Regions from separate parts of the Homo sapiens genome. Here regions 2, 3 and 4 are each reported to be linked to region 1. The links are microRNA targets in miRTarBase. Many come from high-throughput screens and were not tested one by one. Region 1 holds a microRNA gene; each other region holds the end of a gene's coding sequence.

Evidence for each region. The annotated mature microRNA hsa-miR-6819-3p reads AAGCCUCUGUCCCCACCCCAG and lies in region 1 at 1,575-1,595, shown strand. An mRNA with a match to its seed (bases 2 to 7 or 8) in the 3' UTR can be bound and repressed. Matches are read on the target gene's strand: a 7mer-m8 pairs with bases 2 to 8, a 7mer-A1 pairs with bases 2 to 7 and ends in A, and an 8mer does both.
Region 2: miRTarBase lists ZNF682 as a target of hsa-miR-6819-3p. Seed matches in the 3' UTR shown: 7mer-m8 at 3,723-3,729.
Region 3: the mRNA of TSPAN31 is a reported target of hsa-miR-6819-3p. Seed matches in the 3' UTR shown: 7mer-m8 at 1,732-1,738 and 8mer at 1,693-1,700.
Region 4: the mRNA of PKHD1 is a reported target of hsa-miR-6819-3p. The part of its 3' UTR that is shown has no 7-base or 8-base seed match.

What each region holds. Positions count from the first base shown.
Region 1 is chr22:36,283,294-36,288,441 of GRCh38, reverse strand. MIR6819 (microRNA 6819) reads left to right here and starts at 1,535; the gene lies at 1,535-1,595. It overlaps MYH9 (myosin heavy chain 9), which reads left to right. Exons shown (of 41, transcript NM_002473.6): 34 at 29-190; 35 at 1,596-1,724; 36 at 2,489-2,577; 37 at 2,661-2,784; 38 at 3,113-3,321; 39 at 3,931-4,039; 40 at 4,177-4,349. RefSeq lists an enhancer at 1,534-2,046.
Region 2 is chr19:20,001,470-20,006,617 of GRCh38, forward strand. It overlaps ZNF682 (zinc finger protein 682), which reads right to left. Exons shown (of 4, transcript NM_033196.3): 4 at 2,949-5,148. The coding sequence ends at 4,536. It also overlaps the pseudogene BNIP3P12. Among named protein-coding and RNA genes, the nearest start is that of ZNF682, 35 kb to the right of the region's middle.
Region 3 is chr12:57,746,638-57,751,785 of GRCh38, reverse strand. It overlaps TSPAN31 (tetraspanin 31), which reads right to left. Exons shown (of 6, transcript NM_005981.5): 4 at 5,066-5,148; 5 at 4,655-4,768; 6 at 1,567-4,570. The coding sequence ends at 4,496. It overlaps CDK4 (cyclin dependent kinase 4), which reads left to right. Exons shown (of 8, transcript NM_000075.4): 2 at 50-286; 3 at 444-579; 4 at 696-863; 5 at 1,021-1,130; 6 at 2,282-2,332; 7 at 2,469-2,604; 8 at 3,169-4,059. The coding sequence starts at 69. The coding sequence ends at 3,261. MIR6759 (microRNA 6759) reads left to right here and starts at 3,104; the gene lies at 3,104-3,168. RefSeq lists a silencer at 187-326.
Region 4 is chr6:51,615,041-51,620,188 of GRCh38, reverse strand. PKHD1 (PKHD1 ciliary IPT domain containing fibrocystin/polyductin) reads left to right here. Exons shown (of 67, transcript NM_138694.4): 67 at 669-4,890. The coding sequence ends at 1,108. Among named protein-coding and RNA genes, the nearest start is that of PKHD1, 470 kb to the left of the region's middle.

The sequences.
Region 1 (5,148 bases):
CCCAAGTTGTTGATGTTCCTTCCCCCAGGTGCGGGAGATGGAGGCAGAGCTGGAGGACGAGAGGAAGCAGCGCTCGATGGCAGTGGCCGCCCGGAAGAAGCTGGAGATGGACCTGAAGGACCTGGAGGCGCACATCGACTCGGCCAACAAGAACCGGGACGAAGCCATCAAACAGCTGCGGAAGCTGCAGGTAAGGGTGGGCGGGGCCCAGGTGAGGGTGGGCGGCACCCGACTGAGCCAACTACATATGAAGGTGCCAGGGCTCGGCCCAGGGCGGGAACCTGGCAGGGTGGCACCTCCTGGGAAGGTCCTGGGTGCTTCCAGCCCCATCTCACTGACAGAGACTCAGAGGCTCAGAGGTGAGTGGAAACATGATAGTCCAACAGCAAACTTGCAAAACGGTGTATGACTGGGTACATAAAACACAGAAGCAAACAAGTACAAGCCTAGACATGGGTGGAGTTCAAGAAGGTCTCACTTAATGCAGACTTCCAGAATCACCCGGGTCCTGACACCCTTCAGCCTTCTGGGCTCTGGGGCGATGGTTCCAAGAAGCAGCCCGGAGTGTGGGACACATACTTGGAAATCTTCACCTCACTAATAATTAAAGAATAATTAACACGTAAAAACAGCTCTGATACGCCATATCATGTAACAAGAATAACCTTAGTTTAACAAATTTTTTTTTGTTTGTTTGTTTGAGACGGAGTCTCGCTCTGTCGCTCAGGCTGGAGTGCAGTGGCATGATCTCGGCTTGCTGCAAGCTCCGCCTCCCGGGTTCACGCCATTCTCCTGCCTCAGCCTCCCCAGCAGCTGGGACTACAGGCGCACGCCGCCACGCCCGGCTAATTTTTGTATTTTTAGTAGAGACGGGGTTTCACCATGTTAGCCAGGATGGTCTCAATCTCCTGACCTTGTGATCCACCCGCCTCGGCCTCCCAAAGTGCTGGGATTACAAGCATGAGCCACTGCGCCCGGCCAAAAAAAAAATGTTAAGTGTAAAAAAAAAACCCACAAAAACTTTAAAACTTCATTGTGGTCAAGGTTGTGGGCATAGATGCTCTGATTGCTGGTGGCATTTTTTTACTGGTGTGGTCGGGCTGCACACAGCCAGTCACTCTCTTTGATTTGGGGAATCTCAATTTCGGATTTATCTGCAAAAGGAAAAAAAGGCTATTTGACAAAGGTCTTTAGTGTTAAAAGAAGTAACAGGAGAATAACAAAAGGAAAGGTGTTTCCTGCCTGTGGTGGGGATGGACCGGCAGGCTGGGCACTGGTTTTGAGTGGCAGGTGCGCATTAGGGGTGGCACCATGGGCACTGGCTTCCGGCCCACAGGAGGGGACAGAAAGTAGAAAATGAAGCTCAGCTTGGGCTCACGTCCACGGTGACGAACACTGTCAAAGTGTGCATTACGGGGTGGGATACACAGATGATTGTCTTTAGTTGCCTTTTTGCCCTGTCACCACGGTTAGTTGGTTAAATACAGCATTGAGTGGAGCACCAGCCATGAGCCCTGTTGGCGAGGTGACCCATGAGGGTTGGGGTGGAGGGCCAAGGAGCTGGGTGGGGTGCCAAGCCTCTGTCCCCACCCCAGGCCCAGATGAAGGACTGCATGCGCGAGCTGGATGACACCCGCGCCTCTCGTGAGGAGATCCTGGCCCAGGCCAAAGAGAACGAGAAGAAGCTGAAGAGCATGGAGGCCGAGATGATCCAGTTGCAGGAGGTGGGTGGGGCTGCAATGGAGAGCGGCACCGCTGCCCTGCGGCCAGCAGGTGGCAGCGTGGGGCTTTCAGCTGAGGACAGGGCTGGAGTCCTACTGGGCTCCAGGAATTGGCTGGGGATGGCTCTCAGGTTACATAAGGATTCCCTCCAGGGTTCCGTTTCATAGCGGGGCTCCCTCGTATGATCAGAGTGTGTGTGTGTGTGAAACTGGCATCCCTCACATGAGATGAGGCTTTGTGGCCACCACCACCTCCTGCTGTGAATGCTGCCTGGTGAGAAGGGGTCTGAGCGTCCCCTCGGCCGCCCTGCCCGTCGCACCTGAGCCCGTCCTGAAGTGTTTCCCAGGTCTGGAGGGTGCCCTGCAGCGTGATGTGCCGGCTGCGAGTGCGTCCAGGGTGTAGCCATCTGCCTGTGGCCTCCAGAGCTGACTCCAAGCTCTGGCTTACCCAGAACAGGGAGGGGCCGCCCTGAGTGACTCTGTCCACGTGGTCTCCCTGGTTAGGCCAGGACACTTCTTACTTATCGCCATACCCTGGCACCTGGCTTGATTCCTAGCACTTAAATGTAAGAGTTTTATAAACATATGGTGTTTAAGCTATATCTTCAGGGGGGCACCAGCCCTGTGAGCTAGAGGGTTTCTGGAGGAAGGGCTTCGTGGGGAGGTGGGCCTGGGGAAGGGCTTGAGGGGAGGGTGCCTGGGGCTGGGAAGGATGGTCTTGTGGGGCTGTGGCTGCCTTTAGGTCACACTCTGGGTCTTTGTGGCAGGAACTGGCAGCCGCGGAGCGTGCCAAGCGCCAGGCCCAGCAGGAGCGGGATGAGCTGGCTGACGAGATCGCCAACAGCAGCGGCAAAGGGTGAGCTGAGTGAGGGGGCAGAGTTGGGGGGGACCAGGTGTGTCCCCAGGGTAGGCCCCTCACTTCTCCCGCCCACCCCGCAGAGCCCTGGCGTTAGAGGAGAAGCGGCGTCTGGAGGCCCGCATCGCCCAGCTGGAGGAGGAGCTGGAGGAGGAGCAGGGCAACACGGAGCTGATCAACGACCGGCTGAAGAAGGCCAACCTGCAGGTGGGTGCCAGGACTTCTCCCACTCTGGGCTCTGGCTGGAGCCACCACGGCAGAGCTGGCCTTGGACCCAGCCGGCAGAAGCACAGGCCAAGTGCCAGCTGCTCCCCAGGCGCTTAGGGGAAAATGTCCAGGCACCTGGACCTGAAAGGTCCCCCTCTGGCTTCTGTGTTGGGTGTTCAGAAGTTTCTAATCTTCCCTTTTCTGGGAGACCCAAGACTCTGGACCCCAAGGGTTTGGTGGGATCCTGCTGCCACCTTCCTCTGGCCCTGCTCATGCCCTCCAGCCAGGGCCCCAGCCCTCCCCAAGGTCACTGGCCCTTCTTCTGCAGATCGACCAGATCAACACCGACCTGAACCTGGAGCGCAGCCACGCCCAGAAGAACGAGAATGCTCGGCAGCAGCTGGAACGCCAGAACAAGGAGCTTAAGGTCAAGCTGCAGGAGATGGAGGGCACTGTCAAGTCCAAGTACAAGGCCTCCATCACCGCCCTCGAGGCCAAGATTGCACAGCTGGAGGAGCAGCTGGACAACGAGACCAAGTACGTGCCCCTGGCCCCGCCCAACCCCAGCTGTCCTGGAAAAAACTCTGGCCCCCCTGCAGTCCTGCCCAAATCTGGGCCACAACCAGCTCTCTGTCTCCTGAGCCTGGGGCTGTTTCCCTCCCTCCTGATGGGGCCCTCATCCCTTCCACAGGTTGGGTGGTTGGGGGAGCTTGTGGGGTTTGAACAGGATTCTCTGTTCCACCTCTAAAGCCAGGAGTTTTGGTGGCTGTGTCTGAGAGTGAATCAGAGCAGGAGGTACAGGGGGGTCCTGCCCACTAGGACAGTTGTCCTATGGGCTCAGCAGGACTGAGACTTCCTTGGAGGGAATGGGGTTTACAGTAGGCCCCCAGACCTCTTTTCCAGTTACATAGATGCTCTTTGAGGTGTGTCGCTTCCCTTACCTGAGCCCATTTCCTCATCTGTAAATGGGGCTATTTGCAGTGCCCGTCGTAAGAAGCCGGGTACACATAGGTGTCTAGCAAAGGCCTCCCTACGTGATCCCTAGATGCCAGTGAGCCCCGGGGAATGGGTGGTCCTGGTTAGGGCTTGTTGGCCGGACCCTCTGAAGGAGGGTGTTCCCTCTGAGCCACCTTGTCTGTCATGCAGGGAGCGCCAGGCAGCCTGCAAACAGGTGCGTCGGACCGAGAAGAAGCTGAAGGATGTGCTGCTGCAGGTGGATGACGAGCGGAGGAACGCCGAGCAGTACAAGGACCAGGTGTGGGCGCTGGTGGGGCAGTGAGAAGGGCAGCGGGGCTGGGCAGCAGATGGGGTGACAGGCAGGGCAGTGGGGCTGACTGGCTGCACGCCCAGAGCCCCTAACCGGGGCCACGGGCCACACGTCCATCTCCGCAGGCCGACAAGGCATCTACCCGCCTGAAGCAGCTCAAGCGGCAGCTGGAGGAGGCCGAAGAGGAGGCCCAGCGGGCCAACGCCTCCCGCCGGAAACTGCAGCGCGAGCTGGAGGACGCCACTGAGACGGCCGATGCCATGAACCGCGAAGTCAGCTCCCTAAAGAACAAGCTCAGGTGAGCCGCCCTGCCCACCCGCCCCTTTGCCTCGGCACTTCTCTCAAAAGGTAGCTTGTTCCTCAACCAGAGCCCACAAGCAAGGCACGAATGTCACCAAGAAAGGACTGCACAAAGCAATCCCTGCCCCTTCTGGCTCCTTGCCTTTGAGGCTTTAGCTTAGTGTTTTGAACACACAGTAAACTCTAGGTAGTTTATTCCCAGCTGTCCTAAAAGTCTATTGTCTTTTGAATTGGAAGTTGCTTGAGGCCACCTGGCCCAGTCCTGGCACATGTTAGGTGCCTCAGTTAAATATCTGCAAAACGAATGTGAGCCTCATGAGCAATGCCTACAGAGGTTAAAAACGCTCCTTTGCGTTTCTCAGGGAGTGTTAACACTCAAGAAGTAGTGAATGTTTGAAGCAGAGGATCTTATTCTCTGAGATTCTCATTTCTTACGTGTTTTTTTGTGGGTTTTTTGAGACTCTCATTTTGTGTTTTTTGAGATACTCATTTCTTACATGTTTTTTTCTTATGTGTTTACGTGTTTTTTTTATTTTTTTTGTTTTTTTTTTTTGAGACGGAGTTTCGCTCTTGTTGCCCAGACTGGAGTGCAATGGTGTAATCTCGGCTTGCTGCAACCTCTGCCTCCCGGGTTCAAGCGATTCTCCTCCCTCAGCCCCTGGAGTAGCTGGGATTACAGGCATGCACCACTATGCCCGGCTAATTTTTGTATTTTTAGTGGAGACGGGGTTTTACCATGTTGGTCAGGCTGGTCTCAAACTCCTGACCTCAGGTGCTCCACCCGCCTCGGCCTCCCA
Region 2 (5,148 bases), not on the chromosome of region 1:
GTGAGGCTCTTCCCCACCGTGGTTCAGTCTTTCAGTGCTGATGCAGCCTGGTATAACATCCTATTTCCATGTCAGTCATGCTGCAGGGAATATTGTGTGTGTGTACTAATAGGCTGTAATCGTTTGCTAGGACTGCCATAACACAGCATCACAGAATGAAGGGCCTTAAAAACAGCAATTTAGTTTCTTACAGTTCTGGAAATTAGAAATCTAACAGATGTTGGTGGAATGACTTCTCCAAGCCTCTCTCCTTGGCTTGTAGATGGCTGTCTTCTAACTCTGTGTTAACAGAATCTTCTCTTGTGCTTCTGTCTTTACTACCTCTTCTTATAAGAACCCATTATATTTAATTAGGTCCCATGCCAATGAACTCACAAGCTTAATTACCTCTTTAATGACCCTGTGTCCAAATACATTCACAATCTGAAGCAATGCTCTTTTTGCCTTTGTAAAGGAAGTTTGTCTGTGGCAAATGAATAAATGGCAGAATTTTACATCATGGGGTCAGTACAAAAAAGGGAGGTGTGCAGGGGATTTAGGCCACTTTCCTTATGTTGGGAACTCTAATGTCACCATCTGAAGGGCCACTTATGAACAGAAGAGTTATTATAGTTATTATTTCTTTTTTATTTTTTAAGGTGGAGTCTCTGTTGCCCAGGCTGGAGTGCAGTGGTGTGATCTTGGCTCACTGCAACTTCTGCCTCCCAGGTTCAAGCGATTCCCCTGCCTCAACCTCCCGAGTAGCTGGGACTACAGGCGTGTGCCACCACCCCTGGCTAATTTTTTTTTTTTTTTTTTGTATTTTAGTAGAGACAGGGTTTCACCATGTTGACCAGGATGGTCTTGATCTCCTGACCTCATGATCCGCCCGCCTTGGACTCCCAAGGCAATTCTTTTAGCCGATCTTTGTCCTTCACACAGACATAACAGAGGTCCCTGGGTGCTGAAAGACGGGCCTCAGGCCCACTTAGATATTTTGGAAGGCTGTGGTTAGGCTCCATTCACTAAATACACGTATATTAAGCACTTAACTTGCGCAGTCCCTTTTGTAGCTGCTTGGCATAATTCAATGAAGAAAGCAGATAATCACAGGGCCTCAATTCTATCTGAAGAGTTAAACACAGTAAATATTAACAGGATGTCCACTGAATATTAAATGGTGATGTCCTCACGGCAATTTTAATCTCCTGGAGCCACCAACTCACTCCAATTGGAACACTAATTATGGAGTGTGTATTACACATGGTAGTGCTTTTCTGTGTTTGTTCACTTCATTTATGACTAAACAACACCATGTCTGATGTAGAGACGTAAGAGTTGATAAAAAAAGAAACAAACACTACCATGACTGATGACATCTCCCTAGTGTTCACCTAAAGAAATTAACCCAATAAGATCAATAAACTCAATGTTAATTATAAAAATTAAAAGAACAACAAGGCCAGGCGCAATGGCTCACGCCTGTAATCCCAGCACTTTGGGAGGCTGAGGCGGGCGGATCACGAGGTCAGGAAATGGAGACCATCCTGGCTAACACGGTGAAACCCCGTCTCTACTAAAAATACAAAAGAATGAGCCGGGCGTGGTGGTGGGCGCCTGTAGTCCCAGCTACTCGGGAGGCTGAGGCAGGAGAATGGCGTGCACCCGGGAGGCGGAGCTTGCAGTGAGCCGAGATCGCACCACTGCACTCCAGCGTGGGCGACAGAGCAAGACTCCGTCTCAAAAAAAAAAAAAAAAAAAAAAAAAAAAAATTAAAAGAGCAACAAAGGAAAGATTGGCTTAGAGTTCTCCAATTGAAAAAAAATGTACTAAATAAAATGTTACAACATATTTACTATGAAATTACATGTTCAAATTATTTTGCAAGCACCATTAAATTTTGTAAAAATTATTCCAATAATTCCCGAGCAGATTATATAAAGAATACTTTATAAACTTTGGAACAAGAAAACTGGCCGGGCATGGTGGCTCATGCCTGTAATCCTAGCACTTTGGGAGGCTGAGGCGGGTGGATCACAAGGTCAGGAGATCGAGACCATCCAGGCTAACATGGTGAAACCCCGTCTCTACTAAAAATACAAAAAAATTAGCTGGGCGTGGTGGTGGGCACCTGTAGTCCCAGCTACTGGGGAGGCTGAGGCAGGAGAATGGCGTGAACCTGGGAGGTGGAGCTTGCAGTGAGCAGAGATTGCACCACTGCACTCCAGCCTGGGTGACAGAGCAAGACTCCGTCTCAAAAAAAAAAAAAAGAAAATTATGCATTAGGTCTACTATCAATACCAGGCAAGTAAAACCTAGATTTACTTAAGGAGATTCTGAACTAGGAACCACAAGATTTTGAAAAAATGAATTCAATACAAATGGGAAAAATAGATTTGCTTTGAAATTGTTTGAGGTTTCCAGTTTGGTAGTAACTTATCAACACTTTAAAAATTACCAGTTTGTTCTAACATATTTTCTTTCTTCTCAAAATAGGTACACATCCACATTCAAATACAATTACTTGCTTCATAATTCCCTTACACTTTATCTTTAGAGTAACATATTTGTATATTAAACTTTCATGTAAGTGAAAACTTAAAGAGTCTATGTGTGTCTGGAAGGCCACAGAGGTTGCATGTTCAAAGAAAAATGTGAGATAACATCTTCTACATACTCACTTAAGATTCAGAAATATATGGCTTTTGATTATATGCCTGTGTAATTTTCATAATAATCATCTTAATGACTCTATAATTAGAAGAAAAATAATAAAAATGTAACCTATGGAAACAATATTCTCCAACGTATTTGAAGTTTAAAGTCACTAAGGATAAGAATCACTAGAGATGCCATTCCACTATATTACTGAATAGTATGTTGTTACCGTCTGTTACCTAGAGACTTGAGTAAGGTAAAATAGGTTAATGTTGGTGGCAGGATAACACCTAATTCAATGCACAACTGTCTTAACACATTAAAAATAATTGTTTTATTGAAACTAAGTTCACACAGTCTAAGAAAAGCATTACAAAATCCACTATACTATCTAATGTGCAATTGGTAAAACAATTTACTAAAATTTGAATAATGCACAAGACTATTACTCTGAACATCTATCTCATGCAGCACTTACAAGTTTTATAAGTCAACCACAAAAGTTTCTCTGTGTACTTTCTTCACACACCTCATATTTCAGTGTCCTCAATCTTCTGTTGAAAAGTATGTAAATGACATCCTAATATAGAACTTCTCAAACCCCGAGCAGCAGAAATTGACCACATGCTTTCATACAGACACTAGGAATAAAGACACAGCATCAAGTAATTTGAGAGTTCAATTACATCAAAATTTGCCTTTGTAAAAATCTAAAATTCTTTCAATGCAAAAAGTGTACTTTGAATATAATTGTTTAAGTCTCAAAATATTAATCTCCTATTTCTGTTTAGGCTAACTAAATTATGTTAACCTTGAATTACTCTTTATAATCAATGCCCTGATTTAGAATAACATTGAAAGTGTTAGCGTCTTAGTGGTTTCTACTGTGAATCTTCTGATGTTCATTTAGACTTAATTTTTTATTAATTTTTTATATTTACTGCATCTGTTAAATGCTTTCATATAAACTAGCGTTCTTTCTTTTTTTTTGAGACAGAGTCTCTGTCGCCCAGGTTGGAGTTCAGTGGCGCGATCTCGGCTCACTGCAAGCTCCGCCTCTCGGGTTCACGCCATTCTCCTGCCTCAGCCTCTCCCAGTAGCTGGGACTACAGGCACCCGACAACATGCCCAGCTAATTTTTTGTATTTTTAGTAGAGACAGGGTTTCATCGTGGTCTCGATCTCCTGACCTCGTGATCCGCCTGCCTCGGCCTCCCAAAGTGCTGGGATTATAAGTGTGAGCCACCGCGCCCGGCCTTAAACTAGTGTTTTCTAAGGTGTACTTTTTAAACAATTTTTTTCATATTCATTACAGTTGTAGGGTTTCTTTCCAATGTAAATTATCTAAAATGGAATAAAATTTGAGCAACTGTTAGAGGGTTACCTTTCAGTATAAATTCTCCTATGTACAACAAAATCTGTAACATAAGTAAAAGTATTGCAACAATCTTTATATTTGTAATGTTTTTCTTCAGTATAAAAACTCTTGTGTACTCTAAGGCTTATATTTTTGAAGTCTTTCCATGTACAAATGTAATGTATCACTATCATTACACCTTGTGTACTCTAAGGCTTTTATTTGGTGACATCTTTCCACAGATAAATGTAATGTGTATCATTACACTTACATTGCTTTTATCTAGCACAAAACCTCTGATGAGTAAGTTCATAGTAGTTATTAAATGCTTTGCCACATTCTTTAAAATCAGAATTTTTCTCAGCATGAATTTTCTTCTGTGCAATAAGCTGTCAGCAATGGTTGAAGACTTTCCCCACATTCTTCACATTTGTAGTGTTTCTCTCCAGTATGAATTATCTTGTGATTTCAATGCCTTGAGCAAGATTTATGGAATTTGCCACATTCTTTACATTTGTAGGATTTCTCTTTAGTAAAAATTCTTACGTAGTAAGGTTTGAGCAGTGATTAAAAGCTTCCCCACATTTTTTATACTTGCAGGATTTCTCTCCTCTTTGAACTCTCTTATGTTCATTAAGATGTGAGCACCGTTTAAAAGCTTTGCCACATTCTTCACATTTATAGCGTTTGACGGCAGTATGAATTTTCTTATGTCTAGTAAGGTGTGAGCACCGATTAAAGGCTTTTCCACATTCTTCACAGTTGTAGGGTTTCTCTCCAGTATGAATTCTCTTATGTTCAGTAAGGATTGAGGACCAGTTAAAAGCTTTGCCACATTCTTCACATTTGTAGGGTTTCTCTCCAGTGTGAATTCTCTTGTGTTTAGTAAGGTATGAGAACCTCTTAAAGACTTTGTCACATTTTTCACATTTGTAGGGTTTCTCTCCGCTATGAATTACCTTATGTTCAGTAAGAATTGATGATGAGTTAAAAGCTTTGCCACATTCTTCACATTTATAGGGTTTCTCTCCCGTATGGGTTCTCTCATGTATAGTAAGTAGTGAGCAGTGGTTAAAGGCTTTCCCACATTCTTTACATTTGTAGGGTTTCTTTCCAGTGTGAATTGTCTTATGTTTGGTGAGATGTGAGTGCCGG
Region 3 (5,148 bases), not on the chromosome of region 1:
CATCCTAACTCTGTAAGCGACTTTTGGTGATAGGAGTCTGTGATTGTAGGGTCTCCCTTGATCTGAGAATGGCTACCTCTCGATATGAGCCAGTGGCTGAAATTGGTGTCGGTGCCTATGGGACAGTGTACAAGGCCCGTGATCCCCACAGTGGCCACTTTGTGGCCCTCAAGAGTGTGAGAGTCCCCAATGGAGGAGGAGGTGGAGGAGGCCTTCCCATCAGCACAGTTCGTGAGGTGGCTTTACTGAGGCGACTGGAGGCTTTTGAGCATCCCAATGTTGTCCGGTGAGAAGGTGGTGGAGGGTTGGGCGTGGGGAGTAAAGGGAAAAGACAGCCTATAGGTGGGGTGTGATGATCTGTAGAGAAGTGGGGACCCTGAGGAAATAATGAGAGGCCATGTTGGGTTAAAGGGGATTGAAAAGTGAGCATTTACTCTGGTCAGGCTGATGGACGTCTGTGCCACATCCCGAACTGACCGGGAGATCAAGGTAACCCTGGTGTTTGAGCATGTAGACCAGGACCTAAGGACATATCTGGACAAGGCACCCCCACCAGGCTTGCCAGCCGAAACGATCAAGGTGAGTGGGGTTGGTAGGCATTGAGAGGTGGATTGGGACCTTTGTAGTAGAACCTTCTGGGATTTCAGGTATGGTGCCTAGTTTCCAGTGCATCTGTACCTCCCCTTTGAAACTAGGATCTGATGCGCCAGTTTCTAAGAGGCCTAGATTTCCTTCATGCCAATTGCATCGTTCACCGAGATCTGAAGCCAGAGAACATTCTGGTGACAAGTGGTGGAACAGTCAAGCTGGCTGACTTTGGCCTGGCCAGAATCTACAGCTACCAGATGGCACTTACACCCGTGGTCAGTAGAAAGATGGTACCAAAATGGGTTCTGGTTGGGAGTAGGAGAGTGATTGCCCGTAGCAATTGAGAAGTCATGTGCTTCATGTGTTCAGTCAAGCAAGTTGTGTTTCATGGTAACCCATGGGGTCCCCATCCATTCTTCCTATTCCCTTTAGGTTGTTACACTCTGGTACCGAGCTCCCGAAGTTCTTCTGCAGTCCACATATGCAACACCTGTGGACATGTGGAGTGTTGGCTGTATCTTTGCAGAGATGTTTCGTCGAAAGTATGGGACCCACATACCCTGGACTACCTTGAATTCCCCAAATCGCTTGTTCATAAACCACATCCATACCTTGCCCATTCTTTTTTTTTGAGACCAGGGCTTGCTGTGTTGCCCAGGCTGGATTGCAATGGCATGATCACAGCTCACTGCAGCTTCAACCTCCTGGGCTCAAGTGATCCTCCCATCTCAGCTTCCCAACTAGCTGACACTACAGGCACGCACCTCCATGCTTGGCTAGTTTGTTAATATTTTTATAGAGATGGGGTCTCAGTATATTGCCCAGGCTGGTCTTGAACTCTTGCACTCAAGCAATCCTCCCACCCCTACCTCCCAAAGTAGCATAAGCTACTGCATCTGGCCCCATTCTTTTACTTGCGTACTACTAACTTGCCCATAGCAGAAAGCTCTGAAATGTTCTGGAATTAGGAACTTCATATCCCTTTATTCTCTTTATTTTTTATTTATTTATTTATTTATTTATTTATTTATTTATTTATTTATTGAGATAAGGTTTCACTCTGTCACCCAGGCTGGAGTGCAGTGGCCCAATTACAGCTCACTGTAGCCTCTACCTCCTGGGCTAAAGCAATCCTCCCATCTCAGCCTCTTGAGTAGCTGAGACTACAGGTGCACGCCACCATGACTGGCTTTTTTTTTTTTTAGATGGAGTCTTGCTCTGTCGCCAGGCTGGAGTGCAGTAGTGCGATCTCTGCTCACTGCAACCTCCACCTCCCAGATTCAAGCAATTCTCTTGACTCAGCCTCCCAAGTAGCTGGGACCACAGGTGCACGCCACCATGCTCAGCTAATTTTTGTACTTTTAGTAATGACAGGGTTTCACCATGTTGGCCAGGATGGTCTCGATCTCTTGACCTCATGATCCACCCACATCAGACTCCCAAAGTGCTAGGATTACAGGCGTGAGCCGCTGCACCTGGCATTTCTTTTTTTTTAAAAAAAGAGACAAGGTCTTGCTTGCCCAGGCTGATCTAGAACTCCTGGGCTCAAGCAGTCCTCTCACCTCAGCATCCCAAAGTGCTGGAATTGTTGGCCTTTATTCCCTATACTTCCTATTTTGAGCCACTAAGCAGTAACCATTCAACTAAGATATCTTTGAAAATGACTGCTACCTTATATCCCTTCTCACCTTAGGCCTCTCTTCTGTGGAAACTCTGAAGCCGACCAGTTGGGCAAAATCTTTGAGTAAGTGACCAACATGGGAGAAAAAGATTTTCTATTCTGAGTCCTCTTTCTGCTGAACCCAGGATGGCAACTGGCTCTGCCCATGGGGATGGGAACTGGAGGACCCTCCTGACCAGAGTTCTCCTGTCCCCCACAGCCTGATTGGGCTGCCTCCAGAGGATGACTGGCCTCGAGATGTATCCCTGCCCCGTGGAGCCTTTCCCCCCAGAGGGCCCCGCCCAGTGCAGTCGGTGGTACCTGAGATGGAGGAGTCGGGAGCACAGCTGCTGCTGGTACTGGAGATGGCTGTGGGCACAGGGAAAGAAATAGAGACTGGGGAAAGAAATAGAGCAGTATGCAGGGCCCTGGCCACTGTGGTTAATGAAACTTGGTTGGTAGATGGGCTGTAGTTTTTATTACAGCTGCAAATAGCCACCCACAGAGAAGGATATAGAAGAGAACCCATCCTGGCTGGGCACGGTGGCTCACGCCTGTAATCCCAGCACTTTGGGAGGCCAAGGTGGGCGTATCACCTGAGGTCAGGAGTTCGAGACCAGCCTGGCCAACATGGTGAAACCTCGTCTCTACTAAAAGTACAAAAATAAGCCGGGGGTGGTGGCACACGCCTGTAATCTCAGCTACTTGGGAGGCTGAGATAGGAGAATCACTTCAACTCAGGAGGCGGAGGTTGCAGTGAGCTGAGATCATACCATTGCACTCCAGCCTGGGTGATAGAGCGAGACTCCGTCTCAAAAAAAAAAAAAAAGAAAAAAGAAGAAAGCTCATCCCAGGTATTGTTGTGGGTGGGCAGAAGTCTGTTTTCTTCATGGTTTTCTGACCTTTGCCTCTCCCCTCAGGAAATGCTGACTTTTAACCCACACAAGCGAATCTCTGCCTTTCGAGCTCTGCAGCACTCTTATCTACATAAGGATGAAGGTAATCCGGAGTGAGCAATGGAGTGGCTGCCATGGAAGGAAGAAAAGCTGCCATTTCCCTTCTGGACACTGAGAGGGCAATCTTTGCCTTTATCTCTGAGGCTATGGAGGGTCCTCCTCCATCTTTCTACAGAGATTACTTTGCTGCCTTAATGACATTCCCCTCCCACCTCTCCTTTTGAGGCTTCTCCTTCTCCTTCCCATTTCTCTACACTAAGGGGTATGTTCCCTCTTGTCCCTTTCCCTACCTTTATATTTGGGGTCCTTTTTTATACAGGAAAAACAAAACAAAGAAATAATGGTCTTTTTTTTTTTTTTAATGTTTCTTCCTCTGTTTGGCTTTGCCATTGTGCGATTTGGAAAAACCACTTGGAAGAAGGGACTTTCCTGCAAAACCTTAAAGACTGGTTAAATTACAGGGCCTAGGAAGTCAGTGGAGCCCCTTGACTGACAAAGCTTAGAAAGGAACTGAAATTGCTTCTTTGAATATGGATTTTAGGCGGGGCGTGGTGGCTCACGCCTATAATCCCAGCACGTTGGGAGGCCAACGCGGGTGGATCACCTGAGGTCAGGAGTTCGAGACCAGCCTGACTAACATGGTGAAACCCTGTCTCTACTAAAAATACAAAATTAGTCAGGCGTGGTGGTGCACACCTGTAATCCCAGCTACTTGGGAGACTGAGGCAGGAGGATCGCTTGAACCCGGGAGGCAGAGGTTGCGGTGAGCCGAGATCATGCCATTGCACTCCAGCCTGGGCAACAGAGCAAGACTCTGTGTCAAAAAAAAAAAAAGAATATAGATTTTTAAATGGCTTTTACTTTTATATTCGCTAAACTTTCTCAAACTGGATCCTGCTTATTACAGGAAAGAGTTCTTGGTTGTTTTCTCCTTGGCCCTATCCCTGATTTACCCTTAGAGCCACACCAGGGTATGTTGAGGTGATCCAGTATATGGACAGAGGAAGGGAAACAGCTAAGAATGACTCCAGCCCCCATCCTATGCACTCACAGAAGCTTCCCATATCCTCTTGGAGAGAGAGGAAGAAAGTTTTTCCTTTTATTCCTTATAGTCTGGCTCCCACTAAAATATGTCAAGGCATAAAGTCTTGCTATTCCATCAATTTTAGAGGATGTGACAAGGGGCCTTTCCTTTTTCTCAAACCAAAACGGTTACAGACCCTAGATATTCCCTAAGGGAGGAAGAGAAAGCTTAGAGAGAGCAGAAGAAAAGTCAGAAGGATCCAAAGTCTCATAGAAAGGCACTGGGGTTGGCTCTAGGATCCTTCTGATTCCGAAATCTCATTGCTAGCCAAACACCAAGGATCTGTAGGAACAAAGGGAGAGAGATAAGTATCAATTAATTCTCAGTCTCAAAAAGGATGTGTGTGAGGGAACTGGAGAATGTTACCTCTGTAAAGCTAAAGAAGAGTCCAACACCCCCTAGGATTTTCAGGGCTTCGTCTGAATGCTTAAGAAACTTTTCTCCACACATCTGGCATGTGGGGCTCTGGCTCTTGCAGATCTGAGGATAAAACGTGAAGAATGCAAAGTTGTGAATGTAAAGTTGCTAGTGACTAATACCTATGCCGAATGTCCCTAGAAACTTTACTGTTATCTGACCAGTGTCCTACAAACTAAAATCCTACTTGGCTAATTCCCCAGCCTCTATCCACCCCCACCTCCCACCAACACAGCCCCAATACAAGAGGGCTTGTAGAGAGAGAAACAATGACATTCAAACTAAATTTGCCAACTTGGGCATTGTCCTTACCCAGTTTCCTACCTCCCCTGGCTGCTGCACCACCCCCAACACACTCACTGCAGTGCAGAAATCATAATCTTGTTGATACAGGGTTGTGAGGTTGAATAAGCCACAACAATCAAAACTTCTTTCCAGTTCAT
Region 4 (5,148 bases), not on the chromosome of region 1:
GCACCTGAGAATAAATTAAATTATGCAACTAAAGCCCAGAGAGGCTGAAAGGATGAAAGTCATGAAGCCAGATAGCAGGAGAAGGGGAACTTGGGCCTAATTTTGTGACTTGAGTGTAATGTGCCATCTCTCTTTCTACTGTTATGCAACCATACATGTACACACTCATATACATAGATGTTTATGTGATTATTTCTGCAAATATTTATATTCATGTTTTTATAATACCAAAGATATTTACATTGTGAACTTGGTATAAGAGCCTAAGTATTAGATAGGACTGGTTTTTATAGTTCATATCTCTTAACACAGGTGTGAGTTGGCCTGTTGGTAAGTTGGCCTGTTGGTAAGTTGGCCTGTTGGTAAGTGTGAGTTGGCCAGTTGGTAAGGCCTGACCATGGTCTGGTTTTTGCATTGAAGCCTAGCGCTTACAATGAAAAATCCTCATTCAATTATCAACATCATGTAAGTATTTTTTGAGGAAGAAGTATTACCAATTTTTTATTACATATTTGGAGTGTCTGATAAAAGATATTTGGAAATCAAAGAGCTGATGTAATTCAATCTTTGATTTGACAATATCTTGTCAGAAATGCTAAGTATGCAAAATGTGTAATTAACTGGTTGAAAACTAAATCCATTTCTTCCCCTATTTCTTTTCCCCCCAGATATGAGAATGAAGGTCATGCTGGGCAAGGTGAACCAGTGCCCCCACCAGTTGATGAATGGAGTGTCCAGAAGGAAAGTTAGCCGCCACATTGTCCGAGAGGAAGAGGCTGCTGTGCCTGCTCCTGGTACTACTGGCATCACATCCCATGGGCACATCTGTGCTCCAGGTGCTCCTGCTCAGCAGGTGTACCTGCAAGAGACTGGGAACTGGAAGGAGGGCCAAGAGCAGTTGCTCAGATACCAGCTGGCAGGCCAAAATCAGCTGCTGCTGCTATGCCCAGACTTCAGACAAGAGAGGCAGCAGTTGCCAGGGCAAAGTCGGCTGAGTAAGCAAAGTGGCAGCTTGGGGCTTTCCCAAGAGAAGAAAGCCTCCTGCGGGGCCACTGAGGCATTCTGCCTTCATTCAGTACACCCGGAAACTATTCAGGAGCAACTGTGATCAGGGAAGTTGGGGGCATTTGGCCTGAAAGGCAGAATGTTCCCAGTATTTCTGGATAATAAGCTGGGGAAGTGAGGACTGTCCTGCTGGGACAACTAAGAAGAGAGAATGTGGACTCTGAATCCCTTTTTCAACTTTAAAATGGAAAACAGTCATATAAATGCTTACAGACTGAAAAATGTCTCATACATATTTTGCAGCTATCATGATCCTAGTTCAATGCTAGGCAAATAATGGCACTTGTTAATTATTTACCAGTTTTTAACTTAAGCCTGATTTTAACAACTTGATAATGGTGTAATACTGACTTATACCAGCAGGGGTTATTATTAAGCATTCTCTGGATTGACCACCCACAATGCTTTGAGCTTCTTTTATAGAAGGGATCATGAAAAGGTCTGGTCAGCTACAGTTTAATTCCACACTGTTACAGAAAAGCATTTCTTTATCCTGTAGTAGCATTTGAAGGGACAGTTCAACACCCTGCTCCCTGATCTGTCAGAGCTTACCTTCCAACCACAAGGCAACTTCCTGGCTTTTTACAAGTGGATTTTATTTCATGGTTTAAATTCAATCATTATTGAGAACCTACAGTAGTGTGAGCGTATCAAATTTGCACTTCATGAGGATTTACACATGAAAATTGATATTCTCATGGGCTTTGCTGAGAGTTTAGTTAAGGACAAAGATGTAAAAATGCCAAATTTGGGAAAGGAAATTTTGTATGACCACTGTTCTATTTTTCAGTGATTCTCTCTGTTAGTAGCTGGGTCACATTTACAACTGGAAAAGAACTACATTGGGAGATCAGAGAAAGCCAAGTGGCCAAGTCCTTTATCAAAAAGCTGCTTTTTGGAGAAGATGATGCATAAAGCTGTGATACTAAGGAGAGGAGAGATTATGTCATATGCAACTGCTCTAGGCTGTGCAGGGGGTTTAAATGGAGATCAGAACAAAGGCTCACCTGGTATTGATACATTTGGTAAGGTTGTTAAAGGCAATTTCACCAAATTCACACATTTGTACGGGGCCCATTTCTTTTCAAACTGAAGAATACTTTAAACAGCCTGACTGTGTCCTTGGCTCTGGATCCAGAAGGCCTTATGCTCCAAGCATGTAAAGAAAAGATCGCAGGAATGTGGAGAGCTTCCAAAAAGAGATTGCTCTCAGATTTTCCTGAAAATCCTGAAAACCAGGATTTTCCAATCTCTACAATGTTAAGGGGTTGTTGTGTAGTTGCATTGGAAGAGAGAAAGGAAACACACTCTTTCATTGCTGAATTCTAAATAATGATGCCCTGAATTAGTTCTATGAGAAGTACTGGCAGACAGCTGTTATGTCTGCAGGGCATCAAGGGGCAGGTGTGTCTCACCCTACTAAGAATTGGCAGAAATGTTTTAACCTCTTCTTTAGGCATCTGGTGAGTATTGCAGATCTTCAGGCTGTCCCTAAAAGGAGGTAGGTAGCCTTCTCTGTGGTCACTGTGTTGGATTTGGAAGAAAATATAAGTAGATGTTAAGGTCAGTGCTCTCCAGGAGATTTCAATCCAGGCTATCTGTGTTCAGGGAATGATTTGCAAGAAGTTGGTTTATAGACGTTTACTCTGGAGGCACAAGCTGGCTGCCATGCTGAGTAAGTCCTCTTTGTAGATGATGTATTTTGCTTGGGCACCAACAGAATTAAAAACGAAAAACAAAAAAAAACTCGAATGACTTAGGCAGAACATGCCTTCCCTAGTTTAATTAGTCCCTGTTATAACCAGTTATTTATCTTTTTTTGTAGATTCTCGGTCTTGAAGTCATTTGCCTTTGCAATCTCTACTTTAGTATACTCATTGGATCCTCAAAGAGCCGTAAGCTTTTTGGAAAAAAACATTTCAGAAGTGAAGGCTTTTGAGGTTTATAAAATGGTAGCAGTCTTAGTCCTTGCCCTGCCTCAGTTTACCTGCACATGCTTTCTTTCATTTCCTCGGATTCTTTCACCACTTTTTAAGTTTTTTTTCCACAGGTATTTTTCCTGAGCTCTATACCATGCATTTAGCTGCCTAGTGAGAATATCCAGTAGGTTATCCTATAGTTACTATGAAGTTAACACAGCCCAAAAACCTACTTCTCCTTGTGTTTTTTTCCAACTCAATGAATGACATCACTGCACTCAGACCAGAAATCTAGAAGTCAGTCATGACTCTTCATTCTATTTCGCCCTTCACAAAGAGTTAGCTGCCAGCTCTGTTATTTCTGCCCCTTCTTTACCCTTCTTCCAATTTTTATTATCTTCTTATTTATCCTCTATGTGTCACAAGACCAGTCTTTCTGGGAGGCATGTTTTATCCTATCCCTCTGCGTAGGAATAACCATAATTATCTTACTAATTCCATCCCAGAAAAGCCTGTGATCCCTGAGGCCAGAATTGACTCTTTGGGCCTAAATAGCAGCTATAAACATCTTCAGTAACTTGCCAGGCTCTAGCATGTGGCATGGAATTTTGGCATCTAGCTAAAATTCCTCAACCCATAGTTAAGCTACTCCTCTTTCTCCTAAAAAAAAAAAAAAATGAGAGAATTAGGGAAACACCAAAAGCAAAGAGAGCAGCTCTATGTTCATTCATGTCTGGAGATGAGCCAATTTGAGCACCACTGTAGGCCAACTCTAAATTTATTCAGATCGTTAACATGGGTAACCCAGCAAATATTTCCCAGCAGTGACAATCTACACCCTTTATCTAAATAAATATTGAGATGTGCTTTTTTCCTGTGTTAGTTCAAAGAATCTCTTCTTGCCTCCCATTGCTGATTTTCTGTATTGATGGACTCATTTCTCTCAAGAGATTGGACAAGCTAAAATTCTAGAGAGTTCAAAAGTGTTTGAAAGTACATTTTAAGTGTTCTCACCACAAAAAATGCTAGTGTGTGAGGTGATACATATGTTAATTAGTTCAACTGATCCATTCCACAATGTATACATATTTCAAACTATCGAGTTGTACATGATAAATATATACAATTTTTATTTGTCAAATAAAGAACATCTATAAATATTTATAGATTTCAAAATTGAGAAAGAAGTATATATGGAGCCACGGTTGTTTTGACCATTTCTCCATGCTTTTTGTTTGGGGAGGGGGACATTTTTTGGGGGGCAGGGACTGTGTTCAGGGAAAGTACCTGACCAACAGAACTTCAAGTCTCTTCCAGAGTGCGAGACTCAGCTTATCTGATCAAGGTGAACTTGCCCTTCAATAGACTTGCCCTTGTTACTGCCCAGTGAGGCCACCAAGGACCAAGAACAGTTGAGCTCTCTCAGGGCCTTCCCCTTTCAACAATTTAGTTGAATGACTCCCTTCCATCTATCAGTCTTACTCCAAATATATGAAATTACTATACATTGAAATGCCTGCAAACTATATGCAAAAATGAGTATGAGGAAATCAAATGTAAATCATATGCAAATATTATTCAACCAAGCTTCTATAAAATTGTACGTGTCAATAACAGTAAAGAATTTTAATTAATTCTGTCATTTAAAATTCATGCATTCCATATTTTGCTTTCAGAACTTATAGTCTATGCCAATTTTGAAAAAACTATAAGCACAAGGAATTAAATACTATTGAGTATAGAACTGTTGATTTCAACATACACTATAGCACTTTGACTAATTACAGATATATTTGATAGAAAAGTCACATTTCTACAAGGTAATTTTCAAAAAGAAATAAAACATTTCTGTAAACTTAAATGTGGATTAAGTGGCAGAATACAGAGATTTGAATGTTTACAAATATTCTTCTAGCATTTGTTCTTTTTATTTGGTGATTTCTTTGCTCGGAACAATTTAGAACATTTATTTAATGCATTTTTAGGACTTTCTAGATTTTAAGGGATTCAAATAATTAATTGTCCATACATTATCTCTTATCAGTCCCAAGATAATCTTATTTATTATCACTTTACATTTTATTTCAAAATTAGTAGCTATAACAAGGTGAAGGAAATACCTACTCTTCTCTCCATTTTATAAATAAAAAAGTCAGTTGCCATA